Linked DNA regions of Homo sapiens. The protein of the gene in region 1 purifies or fractionates together with the protein of each later gene. This does not show direct contact. Each region holds a gene or a part of one and is shown in the gene's direction. Other genes may lie near its edges. The genes, in order: TREM1, ASB9, ECPAS, ATP12A, TUBGCP2, TTK and SPCS2.

Region 1 (4,138 bases):
CCAACCCCAGGGGCCTGATGGGCAGTGGGAAAGCACTCTGAGTGAGGGGCCCTGGATCTAGTGTTGGCCTGACTAACTGAATGTGACTTTGGGTGAGTCAGGAACCCTCTCTGGCTTTAGCTTCTTTGACAATTCAGTAGGCATGGTAGAAACCCAAAGCTGGAAGACATTGTCCACCTAATAACTCTCAGCAGGAGCTGGAGCTGGGGCTAAATGCAGTATTGGTTTTTGCCTTATTGTTTTTTAAATAACATTGTTGCATGTGCCCAATTATAGATAAATAGAATCAGAATTTTTGCAGATGAGGTCCCTCTCAGTATTTTTAATAAGATGTTTAGGAGATTTCTAATGTGTAGGCAAACTTAAGAACCACTAACTTAGCAATTTCACACCTCTTTACAGTTATTAAATGTTGATTTATATTAGAATGTGTTTATCATTAAATACTGAATTATCAGGATGGAAATACTTTTCCACATCACCACTAGTCTAACATGTCTTTTTTCTCATATTCTCTTCTAGTCTTTATTCATGTTTATACATATTTTAATATGGCAGTAAGTCTAATTATACATGTTTTTATTCTTTTCCTTGCTGAAATTATTCTTTGATGCTGCTACCTAAATTTCATAAATATAATTTCAATGAGTGCATATTTTTCTATCAATTGGGAAAGCCATAACTTACATAACCATTGGCCTGTTCTTAGACATTGATATAGTGTTGATAACTCTGAGATAAACATATTCTTGCAGATATATTTTTCTTCTTTTAAATAATTAACTCGAAATTTCCATGAGATAATTTAAACACTGATATCATTTTGTATACAAATAGCATCTACCAATGGTCTTCCAAAAGATTGGAAACAATTTGCAGTGTGATCCATTAAGCATAAATAAAGCAGTGTCATGGCAGGCTTACAGACACGGATTTAGTCTTTTAAATCATTAAATAGTGTGAGTTAAATCACATTCCTGCTAAAACAAATGTGAACTGGTGCCTGCTCTAATTTCTCTATGAGTGTAGACTCCACCTCCATATGGGTAGTGGCAGTGCCTTTTTCCCCATTATGTTGTTTGGGGAACAAAGTGCTCATTAAACTTCTGTGGAATAAATCAAACGAATGATCTACTAAGAGTCAATTTTTTTTTTTCCTCTACTTTCATTTTGCAATACATAAGTTAAGAGAACATAATCTTTGCCCATATTCTTACTTTTACCGGAAGGAGGGCCTTAAGTGTAAGCTGTCCAGGTTCTGGGCCTTTTAATCAAAGTATTGGAGAAGACGCACAAAGTAACAAAGGAATGAAGCAGTGAAAGCAGGAATTTATTTAAGCGAGAAAGCGCTCCCCAGGGTAGAAGTGGCCCCACGCAAGTGGCTCAAGGGCCAAGTTACAAAGTTTTCTGGGTTTTAAGTACTCCACGTGAAGTTCCTCCCAGTTACCCCTTATCTGGATGAAGCATTTGGTTTGTGGCTAACTAAAGGCTAAGGTGAATTGGCGCCCTCTGTGGGTAAAGGGATGGTCGTCTCTGCTTGGCTCAGGGCCAATCTAAGACACTCTCCCTTTCCAGCTGAGACGTGGTGGAAGGGGGAGGGCTGTAGGGAGAGTAGCCTTTGATTCTTTGCTGCTGGGGCATGGGGAGATGGGGTTTTTCCTTTTGTTTTAGCTTTAGAAAGTTTATGTTAATTGGCCTTAGGTTCCCTGACCCCAGCCCCAGGAGTTTTCCTTTTGATCCAGCTATGGGAAGTCAGCACGAATCCATCCTAGATTTCTTGCCCCTAGACCTTGGTGTTGCTCCATGATTCAGCATGAATTGGTCTTACGTTCCTGCCTCCAGACCCTATTCTCCTGCCTTGCTGCTAGAGACTGCATCTCTCTTTTATCTGTTAACTTTATCTATCATCTAATATGAACTATCCTTTCAGCCAAAATCCAGTCTGGAAAGTGGAATCCACACTAGCTGTTTGAAAAGAAGAAGCTTTTTTTCTTTTTCTTTTCTTTTTTTTTTTGAGACACGGTCTCACTCTGTCAATCAGGCTGGAGTGGAGTGGCACGATCATGGCTCACTGTAGCCTCAACCTCCTCCCACCTTTGCCTCCCAAGTAGCTGGGACCACAGGTGCATACCACCAGGACAGCTAATACTTTTTATTATTTTTGTAGAGATGGGGGTCTCCCTGTGTTGCCCAGGCTGATCTCGAATTCTTGGGATCAAGTGATCCTCCCACCTCGGCCTCCCAAAGTGCTGGGATTACAAGTGTGAGCCACCACATCCAGCCATGAAACGAAGGAATTTAATGCAGGGAATTGTTTGCCCAGGTGATGGAAGAGCTGAGACGCTATCCTGGGGATGGAGAGGCACTGCAGAGGTAGCCACTATCACCCTATCTCTAGGTAGTTTCCCCAGAAGCAAGCTGTAAAGTCTTGTTAAAATGTTTTAGGACTAGGTGTTGTGGCTCACACATATAATCCCAGCACTTTGGCAGGCTGAGGTGGGAGAATCACTTGAGCCCAGGAATTTGAGATTAGCTTGGGCAACATAGCAAGACTCCGTCTTTACAAAAAAATAATAAAAAAATTAGCAGGGCATGGTGGCATGCACCCATGGTCCCAGCTACTCGGGAGGCTGAGGCAGGAGGATCACTTGAGCCTGGGAGATCAAGGCTTCAGTGAGCTGTGATCAAGCCACTGTACTCCAGCCTGGGCAACAGAGCAAGATCCTGCTCTCTTTCTCTCTAAAAAAAAAAAAAAAAAAAAAAGACAAAAAGAAAAATGTTTTAGGAAGTGATTTCTGGCAAAGCCATTGAGGAAGTGGGACCAGGAAGGGAAGGAAGCCAAGCAAGCGTGTCATAACCAAGGGGTATCTCACAGGATAACTCTGGCTCAGTCTTGTTAAGGAGCTCTGGGGACTCCTGGGTCACATTTGGAGTTGTCCCTATAAGGGGCAGTAACTGAGCAAGGGCAGCTCTAACCAAGGCCAAGCACATGAATTCCTGGCCCTTCAGGGGGTTGGTAGCTTGTGTGCAGCCTCGAAAAAAATGCAGATGGTGGCCTGTTGGGAGTGGACATGCCCCAGGAGTTCAGCATAGGAAAATGGTAAAGCACTCAGAGTGGATAATGCAGAGCACTGGCAGGAGAGACTTGGGGAGGAGGTGCAGTGAGCAGAGCCCGGAAGCCAGGACATTCAGGTTGCAGCACTGGAATCGGGGCAGATGCTGAGGATGCTGAGTGCGCCACCATGTGAGGGGTGAGAGAGATGCTGGCTCCCTGCCCCTTGCTGCCTGTCTCTCTGCCCCATCCCTGCCCCCGTCTCTGCCCCCTGTCCCCCACCAGTTGCTGAACTCGACCAGTCAGGCTTGGGAATGTAGTCCCCTGTGCTACAAGTCAGGGCCCTTGAATGGGGGTGGATTTCAGGCAAATAGGCAGTTTTCTGCTTTCTAGCTCCTTTACGCCGTTTCCCTCTTTGCTAGTTTGTGCATGTGGTTTTAAGTTTTGTATAGGTGGGTGTGTTGATTTTAAATCAATTGCTTTGCTTTATTCCTTAATGTGTTTGATTCTATTTCCTGGTGACTTTTCTTGGATTGTTTTTTTTTTATTTTATTTAAATGTTTAGTCCGGGGGAAGATTTATTCTGCTACATGCTATAAACTGTAGAAAAGCCTACACCGTTACCATGTTGCTGTCCAGATACTGCAAGACTATTTACTAAATGATCCTCCTGCCTCTCCAAGTAGCTGGGACCATGGGTGCATGCTACCACGTCCGGCTTATCCACTGGACCTCTGATTTCCTTAGACATTATGTTCCTGCATAGCACTGGCTCTGCATCTGGCCTTTGTGTTCCATTGCCATCTGTCTGTCCCTGTGTCTTACCATGCCACATCCTTGTGCTCTCATCTGCTTGCATGTCTGCTGATGGAACTGGCCAAGTGCCCTCACTCCTTTGCATCTTTTTATTATGATACCTATTGATGTTTACCCAGAAACCTTAGAATCATTTCGCCAAAATCTATAAAATTCATGATGAGATTTTCACTACGGGTGGATTCTTCTCGGTTTATAGGTGAGGAAACCGAGCTAAAGAGGTGAGATGACCATCCCAGTAGGCAGGGTACGGTACTGAGAATAGAGAGC
Region 2 (4,138 bases), on another chromosome or scaffold:
ACGCCCGGCCACTTTTTACAAGGAATTATATATATAATTATATATATATATATATTTTTTTTTTAGATGGAGTCTCGCTCTGTTACCAGGCTGGAGTGCAGTGGCACCATCTCGGCTCACTGCAACCTCGGCCTCCTGGGTTCAAGCAATTCTGCCTCAGGAGGGAGAGGCAGGGACTAGGTGGGACTACAGGCACACGCCTGGCTAATTTTTTGGGGTGTTTTTTTTTTGTATTTTAGTAGAGACGGGGTTTCACCATGTTGCCCCAGGCTGGTCTCCAACTCCTGAGCTCAGGGAAGTCTGCCCGCCTCGGCCTCCCAAAGTGCTAGGATTACAGGTGTGAGCCACTGTGCCCGGCCGATAAATATATTTTTAAAACAGCAAACCAATCATTATGGGAAAGAATCGGTAATTTGGTTGACTTCTGCACGGTTATTTTATAGCTAAGTATTGTATTTATTTTTGTTTCCACATGGGAGAGAGGCACCAGCCACTTTTCACTGTTAGGGTTTCTTTTTCTTTTTTTTTTTTTTTTTTGAGATGGAGTCTCGCTCTGTCGCCCAGGCTGGAGTGCAGTGGCACAATCTTGGCTCACTGCAAGCTCCGCCTCCCGGGTTCACGCCATTCTCCTGCCTCAGCCTCCTGAGTAGCTGGGACTACAGGCGCCCGCCACCACGCCCGGCTAATTTTTTGTATTTTTAGTAGAGACGGGGTTTCACCATGTTAGCCAGGATGGTCTCAATCTCCTGACCTCGTGATCCACCCACCTTGGCCTCCCAAAGTGCTGGGATTACAGGCGTGAGCCAACTGTTCAGGATTTCTAAAGTTCCTAATACAACCCTGGTGGGGTCAGGGTGGGTGAGTGGGAGTGGGCAGGTGTTATACGCAAAGGCATGGTGCTTGTAAAGTCAACAAGTTTTTACAGCTAGAGTGCAAAATGTGAATGTCTTAGGGAGTCTAGTGAGAACAAGTTTGAAGAGATGGAGTGGCAGATAAAGCTTGAAGAGCTAAGTGGAGGAGGTCAGGCTTCATGAGGCAGGAAATTGAGAGCCATTGGTGGTTCTAGAACAGAGACCTGGTAATAAGGCTGTAGGTCAATTAACATGGTAGCCACAGCTGGGATAGATTGTGTTGGAATCGTGGGAGATGGTTGCATTCATCCAGTGGTTCTCAAATTCTCATGTGCCTCTACATCACCTGGAGAGCTTATTGAAATACAGATAATGCAGCTTCTGGCTGGGCACGGTGGCTCACGCCTGTAATCCCAGCACTTTGGGAGGCTGAGGTGGGCGGATCACTTGAGGTCAGGAGTTCCAGACCAGCCTATCCAACATGGTGAAACCCCATCTCTACTAAAAATACAAACATTTGACTGGGTGCAGTGCCTCACACCTGTAATCCCAGCACTTTGGGAGGCCGAGGCAGGCGGATCACCTGAGGTTGGGAGTTCCAGACCAGCCTGACCAACATGGAGAAACCCAGTCTTTACTAAAAATACAAAATTAGCCGGGCATGGTGGTGCATGCCTGTAATCCCAGCTACCCGGGAGGCTGAGGCAGGAAAGTCGCTTGAACCCGGGAGGCAGAGGTTGTGGTGAGCCGAGATCACACCACTGCACTCCAACCTGGGCAACAAGAGTGAAACTCTGTCTCAAAAAAAAAAAAAAAAATTAGCTGGGTGTGTTGGCACATGCCTGTAGTCCCAGCTACTTAGGAGGCCGAGGCAGGAGAATTGCTTGAACTTGGGAGGGCGGAGGTTGCAGTGAGCTGAGATCATGCCACTGTACTCCAGCCTGGGCAACAGAGCGAGACTCTGTCTCAAAAAAAAAAAATGCAGATGATGCAGCTTTTGATGAAGTCGTAGGCCTGGGGTGGGGGCCTAGGAATCTGCATTCATAACAAACTCCCAGGTGAAATGGATGGTACTGGTCAGGGACCATACTTTGAAAACTACTGCACTAATCCAACCATGAAACTTACATTTGGATCGAACTTTGGAAATGACAGAGAAAGGGCGATGATTTCAAAGGAAAGATAAATCAGCGTATGTTGCTTGATTAAATGTTGGAACTAACAGAAGGCAGGCAAAATTATAAGGTTCTCAAGCCCAAAGTAATGTCAGATAAGCTAGATAAGAGGGAAGTTGGAAAGGAAGTTGCCTTGGATGCAGGATGAGGAGGGGAGGATACAGAGTTCTGTTTTGGACATGATAGTGCTAACAATGATGCCCAGTGCACAGTATGATGACATGGGACTGAGACTTAGGAACGATCACAGGTTAGAAGCCAGATACCTCAGAATGTCCTACAGAGGGGCTGTGGTTGAAACCTAGGGAAGGGAGAAATTGTCCAATGGCTAAGAGCTGAGAGTCAACCAAGGATGGAACCCTGGGACAGGCCTCCAGTTGATGAAGTAGGACCAGTAAGTTGGACAGAGAAGCAGAAAGAGATTCTGGATGTTGTAATTACACAGGTGCTAAGGGAAGAGAAGTTTTCAAAGAAGTAGAAGTCACAAGGGTAGGTGCCTGGATACTTCTGGTTTCTTACCTCCTGTTGTGAATCTGACTGGCAAATTGCTACTCACCTTCTACACCCAGCTGAGCCATTGCCCCCATGAAGCCCTCCTAGACTTTCCACCTCTCCCTACTCAAGTGGAGTCATTCTCCGTCTGCTTTGCATCAGTCCTGCCCCTTGGGTAAAACCTCAATTGTAGTTGGTTGCTTTTGTTTATGCTTCTGAGGTCTTAACCTTGGTGAAGTGTGGAATGGGGAACACTCAGAATGCTGTTTTCAAATAGCTGTGCCAAGAAACTCAGCTCAGGTGAAGCTTGTCCCTTTGCACAAGGCCAAGTTAGAGGGGAAAATAGGGCCCAGGTGTGGATCATCTTGCTGCTCCCACCTCCACCTGCAGGCGTTTTTCTGCCCACTTCCCTGGGGGTAGGGAGGGAGGAAAGGCTATAAAAATGGGCAACCAACTCTTTATAGAGATTTGTTTCATGTTAGACTCTCCTGTCCAAGGAGCAGGGAAAGAATGTCTTAATTTTTTCCTGAAAGTAGCTTGTTACGAGTTAAATTGTGTACCCTGAAAATATATATGGTTAAGTTCTTAACCCCCGTGCCTCAGAATGTGACCTTATTAGTTAAGATTAGTTCAGGTGAGGTCGTAAGTAGGGTAGGATGGACCTTAATCCAACATGACCAGAGTCCCTATAAGAAAAGGAGAAGGAGACACATGGAGAATGCTATGTGACAACAGAGGCAGAGATAGGAGTGACACATCTAGAAACCAAGGAACACCAAGGACTGATGGCCACTGCCAGAAGCTAGAAGAGGCAAGGAAGGATTTTTCCCTAGAGCCTTTGGATAGAGTATGGCCCTGTCCACACCTTGATTTCAGACTTCTAGCCAACTGCTAGCCTCTAGGACTCGGCGACAACAAATTTCTGTTGTTTTAAGCCACCCAGTTTGTGGTGTTTCGTTATGGTATCCCTAGGAGGCTAATTTATACCTACTCATAGAAACTTAGGAAAATACATTGAAGGATAAACTAACCACCCATAATTCCACCAAGCAGGTAATCACTGTTCCCAGTGTTAGTGTCTATCTTTTGGGGTTTTGCCTGAAGACTGACAACTGTAGAGATATTTCTATCCTTGCAAAATTGAGCCCACCCTGTAGAGAGTATTCACATTTAAACAGAAGACAAGCTAGAACAGGTATTGAAAGAAAACAATTTTATTGTCTTATGGTGAATTTTTAGATATTGGGGCACCTCAGGAGGGGTGAGTTTTCTGGGGGAAAACCTGCCTGTTGAGACAGAATGGGTGATAATGTGAGGGCCCTTTGGAGAAGGCAGCTTTATATTGAGAGAGAGAGAGAGAGAGAGAAGAGAGAGGGAGACAGGAAAGAGAAGAGAGAGAAGAGAGAGAAGAAAGAGGAGAGGAGAGGCTGGATGATGGAACTGGAGAAAGAACTGCAGTGGACAGGCCTGACTTGCCCAAGAGTTGCCTCAGTGGGCCTTTCTGTTTGTTTCTGACTGTAAGCCTCTTGTTTCTTTTTCTCCTCTTTCTGTTTGTCCTGGGATCAAACCAAGGTCCACAATAATTGTGAATACAGCACCCAGATACTTTCCAGGTTCTGG
Region 3 (4,138 bases), on another chromosome or scaffold:
TGAAAAACTCCTGCAGAAGCTCAATGGGTGGTATATGGAGAAAGAAGGTACCTTTCTTTTTCTATTTTATGTCATTTTAAATTTAGATGTTAACAGCCCAGTAAAACAGTACAAATTAGGTCTTACCCTCCATGATTTTATGTGATTTGCTAGAAACATTTGTTTCTTTTCTTTTCTTTTTTTTTGAGATGGTGTCTGGCTTTGTCGCTGAGGTTGGAGTGCAGTGGTGCTATCTCAGCTCACTGCAACCTCAGCCTCCTGGGCTCAAGCGATTCTTGTGTCTCAGCCTCCTGAGTAGCTGGAACTACAGGCACGTGCCACCACGCCTGGTTAATTTTTGTATTTTTTGTATAGGTGGGGTTTCGCCATGTTGCCCAGGCTGGTCTTAAACTCCCGAGCTCAAGCTATCTGCTCACCTTGGCCTCTCAAAGTGCTGGGATTACAGGTGTAAGCCACCACAACCCAGCCTGCTAGAAACATTTCTAATTGATTTTACCTGTTTGTTTTGCTATTATATGAGTTGAACAATAGCCTGTTTAGATCAGTTACCCTTAAAAACAATAAATATCGTAAAGATTTTGGTTTCTCCTTTTCAGAACCTATCTACAAGACCTCTTGTGCTTTGACTATTCATGCTATTGGACGATACAGCCCTGATGTATTAAAGAATCATGCAAAAGAAGTCCTGCCTCTGGCATTTTTAGGCATGCATGAAATTGCTGATGAGGAGAAATCCGAAAAAGAAGAATGTAATTTATGGACCGAAGTGTGGCAGGAAAACGTACCTGGTTAGTAGTGTGGCCTGAGTTAAACCTGCTTCTTAGGAATCACAGCTAGAATTTTTTACTTGCATTCGTTATTCATAAACTCCTCTGAAGTTACTTTCCCAGGACCTTAATATGCATCCCATTTAGTTTTAAACCCATCCAAATTGCTCATCCCATTTAGTTTTGAACCCATCCAAATTGCTGAGTTCTCAAGGTTGGCACTCAGGATTTTTGTCTTTACTCATTCATCACTGCCCACATGAGAGAATATAAACCCTGTGAGCAAGGAGAGCTTTACATTTTTAATTAAGAGTGTGATTTTATGTGGCCTTAGAGTATTTTAGAGTAGTTTTCTAAATGTGTTTTTCACCTTGTCGCATATTAATTGATGATGCCCATTTGTGTGATACGTTCCTGTGGGCACCCAAGTTCGTAAAGTTCTACTATTGTGAGAATAAGTCACAACACCAACACACTTTCTCTCCCTTTGAGAGAGTGGTGTGTTTTAACAGTTGAGAGTCACTGCTTTTAGACTGTTGGTCACTGACTTTTTTTCAGGTTTAGAAAAATCAGTTAATTTTTCTTGTCACTTAAAAGTTGTTTTAATTTTGCTTTCCTAGGATCCTTTGGTGGCATTCGATTATACCTGCAGGAGTTAATTACTATTACCCAGAAGGCTTTGCAGTCTCAGTCCTGGAAAATGAAAGCCCAGGGTGCAATTGCCATGGCATCAATTGCAAAACAGACTAGCTCTCTAGTACCTCCATATCTCGGAATGATACTGACCGCATTGCTGCAAGGCCTGGCTGGAAGAACGTGGGCAGGAAAGGTAAAGGAACCATTCATACCCAGTTAAAGGGATTCTGACTTCATCTTTCATTTTGCATAATAGTAACGATCTGGTTTTGTGTAACTTTTCCAATGGATTATTTTTGTGAACTAGATTTCCTAGACAGTGGAAGCTTTGGGTAAACCTTGCCTGATTAACTGTGGTATTTCCTCTCAAACTGCAACCCGTGTGGCCTTGCATAATGGACAGTAATGCTGGAGATAGATACATTTTCCATATTCAGCCTTCCAAGTTACGTCTTAAACCAACTTGTCAGCATTTTGTACCTGTTGACCTCATGAACAGATCAGGATTGGGCATAGAAAGATCAGGATTGGGCATATGTGAAATAGAGTAGCAAGGTAGCCTGCCTCTAAACCTGGGGCTGAAGATGCCCATCTCTGGGACCTATGAATTAGTAACAGTTATTTTTTTACACAAGAGCTTTAGTAGGATTCTTAACAGTGAACACTCAGTGGGGAACATGAGATTGTGGTAACCTAATGATCTTTATGTTGTAAAGGTCAATAGTGGCCCATGCAGGAATGAAGTAGTACCGGACTGGGAGTCAGACATCATTCCAATTCTGTGGTTGACACTGTTTTCTGTGAGACCTGGGTCGAATCAGTTCTTTAGGCTTCTATGAAATGGAGGTGAAGATAATTATCCTACATCCATGGTTTGGAGTAAAACTTGGTGGATGTGCTTAAAATTATGCATTAAAGATAAGGTGACTGTTGTTAATTTTTGTTGTCATAGTTATCAAAAATTCCTAAGGTAATTGTAATCATGGTTTAGACAGTGTAAATGACATGTTTGGGCTTAATAGTATTTCCTCATCTTTCAACCCCTTAGGAGGAGCTATTGAAAGCCATTGCCTGTGTGGTGACAGCTTGCAGGTAAATGTTCTTTCAATGAAGATGCCATTTCTTAAACTGGACCCGAAAACTGCAGCCTTTATTAACTTCTGATGCTTTTGTATGGACCCTGTAGTGCAGAGCTGGAAAAGTCTGTGCCCAATCAACCCAGCACAAATGAAATTCTTCAAGCTGTTCTGAAGGAATGTAGCAAAGAGAATGTCAAATACAAGATTGTAGCAATCAGCTGTGCAGCTGATATCTTGAAGGCCACCAAAGAGGACAGATTCCAGGAGTTCTCTAACATTGTCATACCTCTCATCAAGAAGGTAATACCACCTGTATCCTCAGTTCTGGTTTATACTTTAAAAAGAAAAAGTTAAAAAATTGTTTTCCCCTATGTCCTGATTATTAGGATTAGTTTAGCTGCAAGTAGCAGAGAAATTCCAAAATACGGCCTTAAACAAGATAGTCAATGCTATGTTTCTCACAAAGCGTTGGGAGCATCACAAAGTGTTCAGGTATTCCGTCTCTTTACAGCTCTGAACTCTGCCATTTCTAGGGTGTGGTCATCATCCTCATGGTCCACAGTGTGTTTGTGTTCTAGGCAGGAATGCAGAGGAGATGAAGCAAGGATGAAGGATACAGTGGGCATGCCATGTCTCTCTTGAGGAGAGTTCCTGGGCACCGCTAGATGGCACTTTGACTTATAGCCATCCTGTTGGTCAGTACTTAGCCACACCTGGCAGCAGACTGAGTCTTCATTCTGGGTGTCCATTTGCCCTCCATGGGAGAAGGGGAGAGTGGATTTGGTAGTGAATGAACAGTTTATGTCATAATAAGCTTTGCCTTGGCTAATAAGCTAAGCCACCCCAGCCATCCTAGAGTAAAGGCAAGAAGCTCAGTGTGCCATGTGAATTGCCTCTGCCATATAGTGGAGGATTTGGGTCAAAAAAAGACTCAAGTTTCATGTGGAAAATGGAATACTCATTTTTAAAAGTTGGGCACTGGTCCCCCCCCCAAAAAAAAGGGTGTGGTTTCCCTGTTTATTTGTGAAACATGAAATATTTTAAGTAACATTCTTATTTCTTATTGCTCCTAAATTGCAGTTGTTTTCTTTCAGTAATAAGGCTATTTAAATAATTTCCATTACAAACATAGTGATAGCATATGGATTTGGGAGACTTGTGTTTTAAGTTGATTACATCACTAGCAAGCTGGACCAGTTGCTTCTCTTAGCCTCTGTTTCTCTATCAAGAAAGAGTTTGGATTTAGATCATTACTGAGTTTCTTCCATCTTTAAAATCTGATTCTAATGCAAGTCTTTTCATGTTATGCTCAAAAGACTACATATGCAGTATTTTTTAGCTTTTGTTTACAGATGCCTGTAAAGTATTGCCTAAATTTATTAGAGATACAGTATTCTGGTTATAAATTCTTGTTGTAAATAGGGAAACTTATGGTAGAGAATTTATCATTTAACTCTTGGTTAATATCTCCTGCCTTGGTTGGTACCCTGATAGCTTTAATAGTATACCTGTAACTTTGAAGAAGAAAATATTACATTTTCTTTTCTTTGATATATCCTAGAACTCACTTGAAAGCAGTGGGGTCCGGACAACCAAAAATGAAGAGGAGAATGAAAAGGAAAAGGAGCTCCAGCTGGAATATCTGCTGGGTGCCTT
Region 4 (4,138 bases), on another chromosome or scaffold:
AAAAACACTCTATAGTGAGCTTTTTTTTCTTGAGACAGAGTTTCACTCCCATCACCTAGGCTAGAGTGCAGTGGTGCTATCTTGCCTCACTGCAACCTCCGCCTCCCAGGCTCAAGTGATTCTTCCACCTCAGCCTCCCAAGTAGTTGGGACTACAGGCTTGTGCCACCACACCTGGCTAATTTTTGTATTTTTAGTAGAGATGGGGTTTCCTGGCCTCAAGTGATCCACCTGCCTCGGCCTCCCAAAGTGCTGGGATTACAGGCATGAGTCACTGCACCTGAGCTATAGCAAGCTTTTCAAGACATGAGTCTTCATCCTCAAAAAAAAAAAAGAAATGCCATTGGTCAGTTTCAGCCTATGGGCTTCCCTTTTCTTTTGGGAAGATGAAGCTGTCACTCAGATTAATCACCCAAATAACCACTGGGGGCCCAGTGACTAAAGTGATAATCTCACAGCCACCTCTTGTTAAGTAAGAGAGTCTGACATGGAAGACCTTTACCTAAACACAGTAAGAAGTAGCAGTTATGAAGACTTTATAAAGCCTTGCCCTACAGTAATGTCACCTAAACCTTCCCCTTTTCCAGTATCCATTTAAAGAAAGCCCCGTCTAAGCTGCCCATGTGGCTGTGGCTTACGTGGGCAAGCAGGGAAAGCAACAGACAGCAAGCTGAATTCTTAGCAGGAAACTGGCCCTTCGAAGTGCCCCCTTCCCCTTCAAATTGCCCCCTTCCCCTCTCTTGTTTTCTACAACACCCAGGTAATCCCTAATTCCTAGAGAGACTGGAGATGTCTTTCCCTTTGAGGGGTATTGAGGTCCCCAAAGTTGATGGATCATTTTCCAAGCCCTTCACATTTGCCTGCTTTGCTCTGCTGCAGTGCTTCTCCAGGCCTGGTGCGGGCATCACCTGGGAACTTGTTAGACATGCACACTCTGGGCACTGGTGGACACCTGTAGCCTAGCTACTCAGGAGGCCAATGCAGGAGGATTACTTCAGCTCAGGAGTTTGAGTCCAGCCTGGTCAACACAGAGAGACCTAGTCTCTTAAAAAATAAAAATTAAGAACAAATAAAATAAAAATCTTATTCCAGATAACTGGGCTAGGAATGGAAATAGGTTGTACACCCATTGTCTTTTAAAAAAGAGAAAGAAAGAAAGAGAAAGAGAGAAAGAAAGAGAGAAAGAGAGAGAGGGAAAGAGAGAAAGAGAAAGAGAGAGAAAGAGAAAGAAAGAAAGGAAAGAAAGAAAGAAAGAAAGAAAGAAAGAAAGAAAGAAAGAAAGAAAGAAAGAAAGAAAGAAGGAAAGAGAAAGAGAAATGAATGCAAATTCTCTGGCCCCAGCCCAGTCCTCCTGAATTGGGAAGTCTGGAGGTGGGGCGCAATGATCTGTCTCTTAGCAGGTCCTCCCACCTGGAGGGAGAGGACGGCACAAGAAATTCTCCCTGTAGGGGAAGAGTGTTTTATAACCAGCATCCTTCAGAACTGCCAGCACAGGGTGATAAAAAGCAGCTGATTTCTAAAGGCACTATTCTTAAATTTCCATACAGACAACACGCCCTCTACTGCCTATAGCCTGGATGGGCCAGCTCCATGCCCCCCACCCCATCCAGCCAGTGCCCCACCCACCCCAGCCCCCCTCCCCTACTGTGGGTAGAGCAGAACATCCTGGGGTTAGACCTCACCAGCCTCTTCCCCTCTAGATCCCCTCCATTGCCTTGGCGTACGAGAAAGCTGAAAGTGACATCATGAACAGGAAGCCTCGCCACAAGAATAAGGACAGGCTGGTGAACCAGCCGCTCGCTGTGTACTCATACCTGCACATTGGTACGATGAGGGCGCGTCTTCCCCATCACACGAGGGCCTGCCCCGAGAATTCACTGGAGTGGGGGGCACAGCCAGAAAGTGTGGTTTTCCTGTGGGGCCTGGGTTGGGGAGGGAGGGGGAACCGAGAGTAGACAGGATGAGGCAGTTTCCTGAGGCCATCATAGAACCTGTGTCCTATCTCTCTTGTTCTTTCAGGCCTCATGCAAGCCCTGGGAGCTTTCCTTGTGTATTTCACCGTCTATGCACAAGAGGGCTTTCTGCCCCGCACTCTCATTAACCTGCGGGTAGAATGGGAGAAGGACTACGTGAATGACTTGAAAGACAGCTATGGGCAGGAATGGGTGAGTGGCGGGAGCCCTGCTGCAGAGTCCACCTGATTCTCTCCATGCTCATTGCCCTGCGCAGAATTACATAGAACCTCCATGTCCCTGAACAGCCTGGGAAAGCTTCAATTAATAGGGCTCAGGGCCCCCTTGCTGACACGTGTTTGGCCTTTGCCAGGTCTCATGGCACAGCCTCCTGTCTTGGGCTAGATGACAAGAGGTCCCTTTTTTTACCTTAGCTTTGCCATTGGTATAGAAGAGTGACCAGCCCAGCCACACCCACAGTGCGGCCAAATAAATTTACATCTTTCAGGCCGGGTGCAGTGGCTAATGCCTATAATCCCAGCACTTTGGGAGGCTGAGGAGGGAGAATCACTTGAGCCCAGGAGTTTGAGACCAGCCTGGCCAACACAGTGAGACCCTGCCTGTGTTAGAAATAATAGTAATGATAATTTTTTAAAAAATTAACATTTTTCTCTACTCAGCTGGTTCAAGAAAGAAAAATGTTTCTTTCCAAACACTAGAAGGTGGTCCATTCTCAGTCCGGGTGAGGTGTGGAAAGAACATGAAGCTTTAGAGAACTGCATTGGAATTTCCTAGAAGTTTTCCTTTAGGCCTCAAGGTCTCTTCCTTCTCTGCCCATTAACAGACAAGGTACCAGAGGGAATACCTAGAATGGACGGGCTACACGGCTTTCTTTGTTGGCATCCTAGTCCAGCAAATAGCAGATCTGATCATCAGGAAAACCCGGAGGAATTCCATCTTCCAGCAGGGTCTCTTCAGGTACTGCCTGTGCCCGGCCTCCTGGGGCAGCCCTGGGCCTGCCGTGCAAGGATGATGATGATTTGTTTTTCACAAGACAGAGTTCTGGCCACACTTGTAACCCCAGAGGCATTGATTTTTCTGGTGGCATGGTCTGCTGGGTGTATGATCATGAAGCCACAAGAATCCCAAGTCTGTCTGCTTTTGTGTGTCTTGCAGAAATAAAGTCATCTGGGTGGGGATCACCTCACAGATCATCATTGGTCTGATCCTCTCCTATGGCCTCGGAAGTGTCACAGCCTTGAGTTTCACCATGCTTAGGTGAGTTCACCCTCAACAGCATGGAGGAAAGAGCCAGCCTCTGCTTTGAGCTGTCGCAGCCTAAATAAACCTGAGGATTCCCAGGGTTCTTCCCCAAGTCTTTCAAAAGACGTCAAACTGATCCCATGCTCTGTGAGCCCAAAGCTTTGATCTGCATTTTCCAGAAGTGGAAATGGGTTTTCTAGACCTCACCAACCGGCCTTCATCCTCATCCAACAGGTTGCTTCAAAGGCAGACATTGCTTCTAGCAGTCACAGTGCAGGTTAAACAAGGAGCTTTCCACCTTTATTTTGTGGGACCTCGTGGATTTGTCGTTCTTTGCAGTAAAGCAAGACAAATGAACGAGAAGCCCCATTCCCATTGGGCAGGGTTGGGCTATCCCTGTGGATGAGTCAGGGTTCACTTTCCATCCCTTTGCTTCCAGGGCTCAGTACTGGTTTGTGGCTGTGCCGCACGCCATCCTGATCTGGGTGTATGATGAGGTGCGGAAGCTCTTCATCAGGCTCTACCCTGGAAGTGAGTAGCCTATGATTTTAGAGGCTCTGTTTACCCACTTCAACAGACTCTCCATTTCTGATGTACTTTTTTCTACCTCTACAGGCTGGTGGGATAAGAACATGTATTATTAAGACCACCTCCCTTCCTATGTCTCTCAGCAGCACGTTGGGGCACACTTGTTCATCTTCTGACCGTTTGCTGGGCTATTCCCCTGCAGTGCAGACATCGTCAAAATTCAGACAAGAGGAAATTTTCATGCAGAAAGCTGTATGCAGGATGCTCACTGATGTTTTGCACTTTAAAACTGAAATTCAACTCTTTATATAGGATTTTCTTTTCTATCTCCATCTCCTCATTAAAAAATACGTACATTTCGAGGTAATGGTATAGGGAAGAATGTGTTTATGTGTA
Region 5 (4,138 bases), on another chromosome or scaffold:
GCTGCAGCAGGTCCTGTGTCCGTGGCGTCCACAGGCACCCACACTCAGTGCTGTGCCGGGCCCCTGCTGGAAGGACATGTCTCTCTGTCATTTATTGAAAATGAATCCCTTAGAGAGGCCAAGGCTTAATGCTTGATCATGACCTAGCTCTATATGTTTAGTTTTTTTTTTAACCAAGAATTCTGGACCACAAGAATCAATAGCAGCAAGGTTCTGACCCACGTGGGAGTTGTGCTGCCAGGTGGCCACGTGACTCTGAGCCTACCCAATCCTGACTCCCCATTTCCCTCCTCCAATTTTTGACAATTTTGAGGGAATGCTTTCAGATCATTATATTTTCAAGATTCTCGAAAATACAGTAATTTTTATTATTCCTTCTGTATTTGCTACTTGCTCTTGGTTTTGATTTTATGCCCTACCCTGGTCTTTTGACGTAAGTCATCTCCCAGTCTCTCTCATTAGAGCTGCCACGTTCCTGCCTTTGTGACCTTTAAACTCCCTTTGGAGCTGTGTCCCTGAGGCGTCCTAGCCTCCTGGGTGCGTGTTGAGTGCAGCGGCTCCCAAGGACCCAGCCGGTTCTTGCTGGGCACGTTCTGTGCTGGACATGGTGCTAGGCCTCTGTCCACGTCTCCCTCAGCCGTGGCAGAAGACTGGGTCTTACTGCCACGTGCAGAGACAGTTTGCATCTGCCCGTGTCCCTGACCAGCCCTGAGTGGGAGTCAGTGCTTCCGAAAGCTGGGCCAGCCCAGGCCGACCCCATCAGCCTCTGGCGGCCACTGGCGCAGGAGGGCAGGCTCTCTGACCACATGTCAGGAGCCATCCTGTCACGCTGGGGCCCTTCTCCGGCAGGGTAAGGATGCATGTCTGTTGCTGAAGCCTGTCTTCACCCATCAAGTGGTGTTCAGACCTAGTCACTGCCAGAAAGAAGCAATTCAGCTTGTTCACAGGGCGCCCTCCTTTGAAACAGCGGCTCTGTGCCTAGGTGCACCCTCTCCCGTGGTTCCCACTGCTGGTGCTCATGTTTTCCCAGGGGGGCCCTTGCAGGACCTGCACTCCTGAGAAGAGGGGCTAGGGCTCCCCATCTGCCCTGTTGTCCCCAGCCCCTCACGTTGTGGCAGGCAGGGATGTCGAGGCGCATTTCATTTCTATGTGGTTGACCCTTTGTGGGTGTTGAATTGAGTAATCATCTTTGCCGTAGATGCTAGCTTCTATGCATGTCTTTAGTTGAGTGTTTGCGCTAAAGTGTATCTTTCTGGTTTTGTTTTTTAAAATGTCCTTGCTAGTCTCTGGAACTTAAAAGAAAGATGCTTCGAGACAAGCAGAACAAAAAAAATTCAGGCCAGCACCTCCCCATCTTCCCAGCATGGGTGTATGAGAGACCTGCCCTGATCGGGGATTTCCTGATTGGTGCTGGCATCAGCACAGACACCGCTTTGCCGATAGGTACGTGATGCGTTGATTTCCGGGCTCTGCCGATAGGTACGTGATGCGTTGATTTCCGGGCTCTGCCGATAGGTATGTCATGTGTTTATTTCTGGCCTCTGGGCAGGACACTTTGCAGGCCCAGCCCTCCCCCGGGCCTGCCTTTCCTCAGGTTGTGAGGCTCAATGCTGACTGGCTGCCGCCTCCATATTCCCATCCCAGGATGGCAGCAGAGAACGGCTCACCCGGGTCCTTGAGGGTTCTTCTCCTGTCCCTTCTGCCAGAGCTGTGGGGCAGCCTGCAGCAGGCCCCTCCCCAGCCGGCATCCTGGTGCCCTGGTGCAGACCTGCAGGCATCAGAATTGTGTGCAGCACTTATTTCTGAACAGCGATTCATGACTCCCATAGATTCTGTTACAGCAGTATTCTCAGAGGCCTCTTAAGTAGTGTTCGTGTAAACAAGATGCGGGTGAGACCACACAGTCATTTCAAGACGTTGTTATTGGGGACCTGGGATGTGTTCATCTGTCACAATTCATGGGTACATTTTTATTTTTATTTATTTTTAGTTCTTTTGAGATGGAATCTCGCTCTGTCGCCCAGGCTGAAGTGCAGTGGCGTGATCTCGGCACACTGCAACCTCCACCTCCCAGGTTGAAGCGATTCTCCTGCCTCAGCCTCCCAAGTAGCTGGGACTGCAGGCGCCACCACGCCTGGCTAATTTTTATATTTTTAGTAGAGACGGGGTTTTGCCGTGTTGGCCAGACTGGTCTCGAACTCCTGACCTCTGGTGATCTGCCCACCTTGGCCTCACAAAGTGCTGGGATTACAGGCATGAGCCACCACGCCTAGTCAAGTACATTTTTAGATTGAAAAATGAGATTTCACAAACTAAGGACAGAGCATACCTGCTTATCTTGCCCCATCCCCGTTAGTCCAAACTCAAGAGGCAGCATGGAGCGTGGTCTGCTTCCCCACTACTCACGGCTCTGCAATGTGGGCACCAAGGGGCCAACCCTTGCCTTTGCCGGAAACCCTGGAGAACGGTGACGTGAAATCCACCTGTTTTCCTCATCCCCAAGCAAACAGAACCCTGCTGTAAGTTAATGAAAAGTATAGAAAAACCCTGCTGTAAGTTATGAGAAGTATAGAAAACCATGCTGTAAGTTAATGAAAAGTATGGAAAACAGTCTACTTCGGCCAGGCATGGTGGCTCACACCTGTAATCCCAGCACTTAGGGAGGTGAGGTGCGTGGATTCCTTGAGCCCAGGAATTCGAGACCAGCCTGGGCGACAGGACGAGACTAGTCTCTACAAAAAATGTGAAAATTAGCCGAGTGTGGTAGCGTGCACCTGTAGTCCCAGCTACTCAGGAGGCTGAGGTGGGAGGATCACTTGAGCCTGAGAGGTCGAGGCTGCAGTGAGCTGTGATCGTGCCACTGCACTCCAGCCTGGGCAACAGAGCGAGACCCTGTTTCAAAAAAAAAAAAACAAAGCAGTCTGCTTTGTGCAGTGTTTTCAGTAATAATCCAACTGTGAAAACCCAACTGTGAAGACTTAGGGAGAGAGAGCTGCTCCCTTAGCGGGTACTCAGCAGGCAGCCGGGGAGTGGTGGGCACCTGAGAGCTCCTGATGGTACCCAGGCAGACTTCGGAGAAGGAAGCGCGGGGCCCTGCTGCCTGGGATCCCAGCAGTGGAGCCGGCTTTTTGGAGCAGGAGGCACTGAGGGGGTGTTCAGGCTTTCCCCCCATGTTTCCCCATTCAGGGAAGGGGTTGTACAAAAGAGGAACGCACTGTCCAGTAACGCTGCGGCGCCGTGGGCAGCTCTGAGCGTGGCGGTGATTGGCAGCAAGTGTGTGAGACTTGGCTGTGAACCCTGCAGCCAGCTCTCAGGTCAGGGTGCAGGTGCCCTCAGCACACTCAGCATCCCAGGAAAGGGGCGGCCTCGCCCCACCTCCCTCCCACGGCCACATACCACAGGTCCCAGGGGTGCCTCCGGTATTGAGGCTGCCTTGCCTCCCTTTGTCCGCACTGTCCCTGTCCCCTTGTGCCACCTGTGCAGACTTGAGAATGGAGCTCACTGTGGTGTTCATGCCGGGGCCTGTCTAGCTCCTCACCCCACGATTTGACCAGTGCCACACCACGGGACCTTGTGTGACCTCGGGCCTGCGTCCTCTGGAAAACAGCTGTGGAGTGGTGTGATGAGGACAGGTGCCTTGGAAAGCATCAGGACCTTGTGAGCACGAGGCAGCTGCCAGCACTCCACGTTCCCGCCATGCTCTCCTCACCGTGTGGGCATCCACCTGGCCAGCGCCGCCTCCGCAGTGCCCCTCCCTCTGGTCGCTCCCGCGCAGCATGCGAAGGTGTTATCTGCCCGCGTCCTGCCTTTTCCCCACACCGGCACGGAGGAGCCACGTGTTCGGTGGTCGTTCGGACGTGGTGATTTGCAGGTGACATCGCAGGTGTTGAGATGACACTGAGGATGTTGAATATTGGGGAGGTGAAGCAACTGACTCTTTTTTTGCTTGAGACAGGGTCTCACTTCGTTGCCTAGGCTGGAGTGCAGTGGCACAATCTCAGCTCACTGCAGCCTCGACCTCCCAAGCTCAGGTGATTCTCCCACCTCAGCCTCCCGAGTAGCTGGGACTGCAGGTGTGCACCATCACACGCAGCTAATTTCTGTATTTTCAGTAGAGACGGGGATTCGCCGTGTTGCC
Region 6 (4,138 bases), about 39 Mb from region 1:
GTCCTACAGCTGGCCTTCATTTTTCTAACTTCTTCGTGTCTCATGACCATTTCCTTAATTTTACTTTAGCCACCTACTCCTTATATCCTCAATTCTGACCTCCAAAATCGCAGATGCTAACATTCCACTCTATGATCGTGATCTTTTTCATTTTCCTTGTTCATTAATCTTATTACAGCAGTTCCTCAGTAACATCTTTACCACTAATCTTAAAATATGTGCGTGCTTGTACGTGAGCACAGACACACGAAGTCTTAAATGAGAGGGAAAATTTATCCTGGAAAAAAAATTTCTTGGCCAAGACTGAAATGTAGAAAGTAGGATAGATTTAGTCATTGTAATTCTCAAGTGCGTAATGAGGACCAGTGTGTTGAAATTATAATAGATAAACCAATATAATCCAAATTATCTGCAAATATTTTCTAATAACTAAAGCTGTCCTGAAATTGAAGTGAACCTCTGTAGACTAGTGAGTGCTTAGTTACTAAAAGTATTCAAGCAAAACTTGGTTCTCTATTTAATTGAGATGTGCTACAGCAGGGGTTAGCAAACTTTATGTAAAGGGTTAGCAGGCTTTCCAGGCTAGATGGGCTCTGTTGTAGCTTTTCACCTCTGCCATTAGAGCATGAAAATAAAAGCCATAGACAATATGTAAACAAATTGGCATAGCCATATTCTAATAAAACTTTGTTTACAAAAATAGGCAGGCAGCAGGCCACATTCAGCCTGAGCCTGTAGGCTGTAATTTGCTGATTTCTGCTGCAGCGGATGTTCCTTCATCATTGTTTGGGGTTTGTATAGGATGAATCCTATAGGTTCTTTTTTTTTTTTTTTTCCCAACAATGCTTTTGGAAAAAGAATTTCTACAGGTTCTGTCTCTTCTTATGGAGGACACAAGATAGGCATTTGTCATTCCACATTTTGCTAAGTAATTAGTATTTGTCTACATTTGAGGAGAAGGGAATAGAGTTTTATTGATTAAAGAAAGGCTGATTTTCAGAAACACAGGATACTATTTTAGATGATAAGAATTTAATACTTGTTACAATAGCTCTGATGGAAGAGAATGTTAAATTCTGTTTTAAGTAATTTTGTGTGCCTTCCCTGTACTTGCCATCAGTTTGAGCAGAATGCACTAGGCTTAAGAATTTGGAGTAAAATAACTACACTAAAAAAATTATTGAAAGTCTAAAATGTATATATATGCCTATCTCTTTTAGTATGCCTTTGTATATCATATGTTATTATTTTATTTTAAAAGTTATAATATTTGTAAAAACTAGTGAACAGGCAACTAATTTAAAAACTAAATCATGGTGTTCTTTATTTTGTTTTAGCAGAAACATACCACTTTTGAGCAACCTGTCTTTTCAGTTTCAAAACAGTCACCACCAATATCAACATCTAAATGGTTTGACCCAAAATCTATTTGTAAGACACCAAGCAGCAATACCTTGGATGATTACATGAGCTGGTAATTACTTTGGCCCCTTGCTTGATTGGCAGGGTGGTATGATAGAATTAACATGGGCTTCTGGGCCAAATAAATCTGGGATTAAATCCTGCTCTTTTACTTTAAAGACTTTCCATCTTCATATTATTTTTTCAGCATCAGTGTTTTCATCTATAAAATGGAAAGGGGGAAGTGGTTGCAATAATGCATATTTTTAAGGATTGTTGTGCATGTAGTTTCTGTCATATCGTAATCTGTACCTACAACCTATAAATATTCTAAGGATGTAAAACGTCTTGATAATCATGTATTGCCATACAGATATCTCTCTATTAAGAGAGAGATTTTAAAGGTTAGCATTCTTAGAGCAGATAAAGAGTAGATGAATTTTTTCACATAAGTGGTGTTAATTGGAAAGTGATAGCTTCTGGAAGAGATTGGTTTTTACAGTTCATGTAGTTCTGGAGGTATTCAAAGGTGTAGTATTTGAGTGAATAGGAATGATGGATAAGTGAAGAAGTTCGATGATGAGTGTGCTGATAGGGAACACAAGGGATACTACAAAAGAAAATGAATGACATTTCAGAGAAAGGAAATAAAGGGATGCGATACATTATAACCATCAACCGGTGGCTATATCTTTAATGTCTTAGGGGATAGCTTAAATCCGTGTTGTCTTTTGCGTTTCATTTTCATAATGTAATCCTTGATCTTAATTAGAACTGGTCTTAAAGATTTTATAACCCAGCCTCTTACCTACTTAATATAGTTTTACTATATATTGCCTCATTTTATTATATGTAGAATATTCTAAAGAATGATTGCTAACTAAAATAGCGATAATAGATATTTCTTGTGATACTAGGTTAATTATTGTTAACAAATATTTGTGGAGCTCTTTTGTGCCAAGCATTGTTCTAGGTGTTGAGGATATATTAATAGCAAAAAGGCAAACAAAGCACAAATGTATACTGGACAGATTTAAGCTCAAAGGCCAAACTCCTGTGATGTAATTGGCTTTCTGATATTTCTAGCAAGCCATTATAGAACATTATTGTTTAAAAAAAAACTCAAAATCTATGGCCGGCCACAAGCTGATGTTTGCTAAATTCATATAAAATAACCCTAACCACTTTGTATTTTAAATGCCATCTTTTCAAACAAAGATTTCTTGTCTGCATACAAATATTTACTTTCAGAAAGAATTCCCCAAAATTAAATATCCGGTGGTGGCATATCTGGAATAAGTGTCAGCTATATCATGAAAACTAACTTGGGTTCTGTTTGATGTAACACTTTTAAGTTTATATCAGTCTAAAATACATGAAACTGAATCAGACTTATTTGTTAAATTGTAATGTTTTAAATAAAAATATATATATATTTCCTAGTTTTAGAACTCCAGTTGTAAAGAATGACTTTCCACCTGCTTGTCAGTTGTCAACACCTTATGGCCAACCTGCCTGTTTCCAGCAGCAACAGCATCAAATACTTGCCACTCCACTTCAAAATTTACAGGTTCGATAAGCTTTATATATGATGGTATATGTTAAGATACAGTCCGTTTTACAGCTTTTATTTTTATAGCATCTAGTTATCAAGAAAGGTCTTAAGAACTTGGCCATTCTTATTTCCACTAGACAAAACTTTTCTGATATTCTAATAAGAGTGTGCCTTGTGGCTTTGAGAGGTTGGTTATTGAAGAAGCTTACGAAGCTACTCTTAATAACTAGGCCAAAGGATCCAGTTTGAATAGCTGGATAAAATTTCTCTTATGAATCAAGGTTACCTTTTATTTTTTATTTTTATTTATTTATTTATTTATTTATTTATTTATTTTTTGAGACAGAGTCTCGCTCTATTGCCCAAGCTGGAGTGCAGTGGCGCGATCTCGGGTGACTACAACCTCTGCTTCCCAGGTTCAAGCGATTCTCGTGCCTTAGCCTCCCGAGTAGCTGAGATTACAGGCACGCACCACCACACCTGGCTAATTTTTGTATTTTTACTAGAGACAGGGTTTCACCATGTTGCTCAGGCTGGTCTCAAACTCCTGGCCTCAAACCATCCGCCCGCCTCAGCCCCCCAAAGTTCTGGGGTTACAGGCATGAGCCACTGCGCCTGGCCAGCGTTACTTTTTGTTGTGTTTTGTCAGCTGCTAGTGAGCAGCTTCATTTTGTTTGTTAGTATACAATTCATTTGGAAATGTAAATTTTCAAAAATATCAGAATAGCAATATGAGGTACTGCTAGAATGTATTATACTAATAACTAAACTAAGAGGAAAGATTTTTTGCTGATGAGGCAAAAGTTGGTTTCTAGTAACTGTCCTAGAGGCAGCTTAATACTGGTAGAAAACATGGGCCTTGGAGACACTGGGCATGAATCTTAGCCTCACTACTTACAGTCTGTGTGATCTTTTGCAAGTTACCTAAATTTTCGGTGCCCATTTCATTATCTATAAAATTAGTAAAGCTAACTACCTCCTAGGATGGTTGTGAAGATTAAATTAGTTAATATAGACGTAACTCCTAATACAGAGCATGACACTTAGTAAATCAGAAATGTTAGTAGCAATTGTTATTTAAATAAAACAATAAAAAACCCATGAGTAATTAACTATAAAAATCAACTGATAAAAAAATTAGCTGACAGAATAAGAACAGTGGTTGTCAGGGAAGGGAGGAAG
Region 7 (4,138 bases), on another chromosome or scaffold:
ATTAGCTTGATTCCTTGTTTTTCTCACCAGGTACTTCTGGAAAAATACAAATATGTGGAGAATTTTGGTCTAATTGATGGTCGCCTCACCATCTGTACAATCTCCTGTTTCTTTGCCATAGTGGCTTTGATTTGGGATTATATGCACCCCTTTCCAGAGTCCAAACCCGTTTTGGCTTTGTGTGTCATATCATATCCTTTATTTATGCTCAGGTTGTTTTCTAGTGACTATTTTTTTAAATCTGCTGATATTTCTCCCTACAAAAAACAAAACGGACTTTCATATTAGGGCTTGCTAATGTTAGAATTCAACATTTTGAGCTGTGATGTTTATATAGTAAATATCTATCAGTTTATATAGTAACTGTCACTGATATTTTATGTTTTGTATGGTTATTTTATCGTAATTCATTTTTGTTATTAATGTAGAGGTTATTGTCCTAATATGAGCACTTAATAGCAAAACACATAGTAATAGTGAACCCAGCTCTTCTCATTTCTAGCCCAGAACTTTTCCCGTTAGACGTGGCTGCTTCAAGCCACTCATTCTAGGATATTAGGAAAGGATCTGATTTTGGAGACTCAGATCTGTATTAAGTTTACTTGAAGCTGAGGAGCTGAACTGGAAAGTACTGAGCATGAGATACAAGTGTGGCTTGTATTACAGTGGAATTAAGAACTTATTCTGGAGCTAGAGAATATGGGTTTGAAATCCAAGGTATCTGTGATCTTGTGCTAATGAAAATTTACTTATTTTTGAGATGATTTGAATACCACTCATTTATAAATATGGGTAGCATTCAGAATTATCATAAAGATTAAATGAGAGATTTTATATTGTATTTGATACATAATCATTTCCTTTCCCCTCTTTTTTATGATAAATGTAAGATCATGGTCGTTGCCTACCCAGCGTGATTTTTTTTCTCAAGAAGTTGAATATAAAGAACTTAATTATACTTCACTATTAAAATAGGTAATTTTGGTTGGTAGTTTACTTTTTTAAACAATGTTACCACTACCTAAATTTTGTTTTGTTTTCTTTTTTTTGAGACAGGGTCTTACCGTGTCACCCAGGCTGAAGTACAGTGGTGTGATCATGACTCACTGCAGCGTCAGCCTCCTGGCTCGAGCAATTCTCCCACCTCAACCTCCTGAGTAGACGGGCACATGCCACCATGTCTGCCTAATTTTTAAATTTTTTACAGAGACAAGGTCCTACTACGTTGCCTAGGCTGGTCTCAAAACTCCTGGGCCCAAGCAATCCTCCCAAAGTGCTGGGATTACAGGCATAAGCCACTGTGCCCAGCCAACCTGAAATATGTTTTAAAACTTCATGTTGGGGATTTATCTTCAGAGGCAGTTAGCAAACCTCTGATAAAGCAGATCCTAGTCAAAAATTGTATTATCCAGATTGCCCCACATTTCCCCCAGAAGTGGCACCAGGTGATCCTTGACTCCTTTCAGTAATCAGATTAATCATCCCAGTATGAATTTTTCACTATTAAGGCAGTTCAGAAGAATAATATTCCATAGGTTCTAGAGACAGTTCCCAGGGGAATTCCAAAGAGATTTGAAAATGATAGCAACATTATTACAAATATCTGGCCTCCCAAGAGAACTACCTTGATGGTAATTCATTTGTTTGGTTATATTTGTTTAATAAAACAAGGTCTTATTTTTGTCATGTCAGTTTTATTTATAATGTAGGGACTACCATTATAAATGTCTTCTGTTGCTGGGCATCGTGGCTCATGCCTGTAATCCCAACACTTTGAGAGGCCAAGGCGGGCGAATCACTTGAGCCCAAGAGTTCAAGGCCAGCCTGAGCAACTTGGAGAAATCTGTCACTACTAAAAATACAAAAATTAGCTGGGCATGGTGGCGCATGCCTGTAGTCCCAGATAGTTGGGAGGCTGAGGCACAAGAATCACTTGAATCCAGGGGGCGGAAGTCACAGTGAGCCGAGATCTGCTACTGCACTCCAGCCTGGGCGATAGAGCAAGACTCTGTCTCAAAATAAATAAATTAATTAGATAAAATAAAAAATAAATTAGCTGGGTGTAGTGGCACACACCTATAATCCCAGCTACTGAGGAAGCTGAGATGGGAGGATTGCTTGAGCCTGGGATGTTGAGGCTGCAGTGAGCTGAGATCATGCCACTGTACTCTAGCCTGGGTGACAGAGTGAGACCCTGTCTCAAAAAAAAAAGTCTTCTGTATCCTAGACTGCATATATCCTTCATCTCTAAATCTCATGATAATTCTAAAACATCAGTATTATCCCAATTTTAAAGGTAAGGATACTAAGACTTGGGGAAGGAAGTTATTTGTTACAATCATACTGATTAAAGGCCAAGATTTAAATCTAGGATTATCTCTACTCTAAAGTCCATATACTTTGTACTATATTTTCCTGCCTTTCCTGTTCATGAAATTTATCTATTTTTTAACTCTTCTTTAATGGAATGCTTCATGAATTTGCCTGTCATCCTTGTGCTAGGGCCATGCTAACCTCTGTATCGTTCTAATTTTAGTATATGTGCTGCCGAAGCGAGCACTGTTCATGAAATTTATTTTTATTTTATTTATTTTATTTTTATTTTTTGATACAGGGTCTCACTCTGTTGCCCAGGCTGGAGTGCAGTGGCACGATCTTGCCTCACTATAGCCTCTGCCTCCCAGGTTCAAGTGATTCTCCTGCCTCAGCCACACAAGTAGCTGGGATTACGGGCCTGCACCACTACATCCAGCTAATTTTTTTTTGGTTTTTGTGGGTTTTTTTTGTTTTTTTTTTTTTTTGAGACAGAGTCTTGCTGTGTCACACAGGCTGGAGCACAGTGGCACGATCTCGGCTCACTGCAACCCTGCAACCTCTGCTTCCTGGGTTCAAGCCATTCTCATGCCTCAGCCTCCTGAGTAGCAGGACTACAGGCATGTACCACCATGCCCAGCTAATTTTTGTATTTTTGGTAGAGACATGGGGTTTCACCATGTTGGCCAGGCTCATCTCGAACTCCTGACCTCAAGTGATCTGCCCACCTCAGCCTCCCAAAGTGCTGGGATTACAGGTGTGAGCCACCACGCCTAGCCTTAATTTTTGTATTTTTAGTAGAAATGGGGTCTCCCATTGTTCCTTGTTGGCCAGGCTGGTTTCAAACTCCAGGTCTCAAGCAATCCACCTGCCTCGGCCTCCCAGAGTGCTGGTATTAAAGGTGTGAGCCATCGTGCCCAGCCTTGTTTATGAAATTTAAATGGCACAGTATACACAAAGCTCTTATGCCAGTTTTTGGCAAACTATAAGTGCTTATTAACTATGGTACTTAATACTGTCAAAAACAATATAATAATAAGTCTATATGCATATAGGAAGTAATCGTAGTACTATTTGACATACTCTCTTATAGTAAACTATTTGGGTCACTTTTCTTCTCTTAATAACCCTTAAAATCAGTTGAACATGGTCAAGTCCACTGGGACTATTCGTTGTTTTTTATAAAGAAATAAGCACTATTATAACAAAGTCTTGACAAACTAGGTATCTTATTATACATGTTGTCTTTGAACATAAAGATGAGAGCTAGTTTATGCTCTGTATCTTTTTCTTTTCTTCCTTTCTGAGGTGTTTGCAGAATTAACCAGAGAGAGCCTTGCTTCTCTTGGTATATAAACATAAGGATGAAAATGAAATAGCTAAATTTTCAGTGTTTTGGCAGCAAGACAAAGCTGTCTTCTTTAGGACTATCATTATGAAAGTTTTTATATCTGTTGCTTGTCAATTTGTGTTACTTCTCTTTTATGTTTGGGTATTTTCCCCTTAACTTTATTTGAACCTATTTTGTGATGATGGGGATTCTGACCATTTATACCTCATATAAGGAGAAGAGCATCTTTCTCGTGGCCCACAGGAAAGATCCTACAGGAATGGATCCTGATGATATTTGGCAGCTGTCCTCCAGTCTTAAAAGGTATGACTATCCTCACAGATTTTTAAATCCTGGTGTTGGATTTGCCCTGGCATGTTGTCATTATCAACAGAAGACTTATTATGTGCCTACTCTATGTGGATCATAGGGCTAGTCATATAAAATGAAGAAAGGAGTATGGATGATCTAGAAGGTTTGTCCTAGCCCTATAGT

Evidence for each region.
Region 2: the proteins of TREM1 (region 1) and ASB9 purify together in Homo sapiens (affinity purification with mass spectrometry; one large-scale study listed by BioGRID and IntAct). This does not show direct contact.
Region 3: the proteins of TREM1 (region 1) and ECPAS purify together in Homo sapiens (affinity purification with mass spectrometry; one large-scale study listed by BioGRID and IntAct). This does not show direct contact.
Region 4: the proteins of TREM1 (region 1) and ATP12A purify together in Homo sapiens (affinity purification with mass spectrometry; one large-scale study listed by BioGRID and IntAct). This does not show direct contact.
Region 5: the proteins of TREM1 (region 1) and TUBGCP2 purify together in Homo sapiens (affinity purification with mass spectrometry; one large-scale study listed by BioGRID and IntAct). This does not show direct contact.
Region 6: the proteins of TREM1 (region 1) and TTK purify together in Homo sapiens (affinity purification with mass spectrometry; one large-scale study listed by BioGRID and IntAct). This does not show direct contact.
Region 7: the proteins of TREM1 (region 1) and SPCS2 purify together in Homo sapiens (affinity purification with mass spectrometry; one large-scale study listed by BioGRID and IntAct). This does not show direct contact.

What each region holds. Positions count from the first base shown.
Region 1 is NC_000006.12:41,276,533-41,280,670, reverse strand, and holds part of TREM1 (triggering receptor expressed on myeloid cells 1 isoform 1 precursor), read left to right. Parts: exon of another isoform or gene 1-1,134; intron 1,135-4,138.
Region 2 is NC_000023.11:15,263,335-15,267,472, reverse strand, and holds part of ASB9 (ankyrin repeat and SOCS box protein 9), read left to right. Parts: intron 1-4,138. UniProt on the Homo sapiens protein: Substrate-recognition component of a cullin-5-RING E3 ubiquitin-protein ligase complex (ECS complex, also named CRL5 complex), which mediates the ubiquitination and subsequent proteasomal degradation of target proteins.
Region 3 is NC_000009.12:111,369,079-111,373,216, reverse strand, and holds part of ECPAS (proteasome adapter and scaffold protein ECM29), read left to right. Parts: coding exon 1-47; intron 48-596; coding exon 597-788; intron 789-1,387; coding exon 1,388-1,596; intron 1,597-2,451; coding exon 2,452-2,495; intron 2,496-2,589; coding exon 2,590-2,782; intron 2,783-4,043; coding exon 4,044-4,138. UniProt on the Homo sapiens protein: Adapter/scaffolding protein that binds to the 26S proteasome, motor proteins and other compartment specific proteins. May couple the proteasome to different compartments including endosome, endoplasmic reticulum and centrosome.
Region 4 is NC_000013.11:24,707,665-24,711,802, forward strand, and holds part of ATP12A (potassium-transporting ATPase alpha chain 2), read left to right. Parts: intron 1-1,699; coding exon 1,700-1,823; intron 1,824-2,018; coding exon 2,019-2,164; intron 2,165-2,795; coding exon 2,796-2,929; intron 2,930-3,127; coding exon 3,128-3,229; intron 3,230-3,653; coding exon 3,654-3,745; intron 3,746-3,829; coding exon 3,830-3,858; 3' UTR 3,859-4,138. UniProt on the Homo sapiens protein: The catalytic subunit of a H(+)/K(+) ATPase and/or Na(+)/K(+) ATPase pump which transports K(+) ions in exchange for Na(+) and/or H(+) ions across the apical membrane of epithelial cells.
Region 5 is NC_000010.11:133,295,257-133,299,394, reverse strand, and holds part of TUBGCP2 (gamma-tubulin complex component 2), read left to right. Parts: intron 1-1,283; coding exon 1,284-1,443; intron 1,444-1,990; coding exon of another isoform or gene 1,991-2,074; intron 2,075-4,138. UniProt on the Homo sapiens protein: Component of the gamma-tubulin ring complex (gTuRC) which mediates microtubule nucleation.
Region 6 is NC_000006.12:80,025,041-80,029,178, forward strand, and holds part of TTK (dual specificity protein kinase TTK), read left to right. Parts: intron 1-1,337; coding exon 1,338-1,474; intron 1,475-2,844; coding exon 2,845-2,971; intron 2,972-4,138.
Region 7 is NC_000011.10:74,965,733-74,969,870, forward strand, and holds part of SPCS2 (signal peptidase complex subunit 2), read left to right. Parts: intron 1-30; coding exon 31-191; intron 192-3,832; coding exon 3,833-3,967; intron 3,968-4,138. UniProt on the Homo sapiens protein: Component of the signal peptidase complex (SPC) which catalyzes the cleavage of N-terminal signal sequences from nascent proteins as they are translocated into the lumen of the endoplasmic reticulum.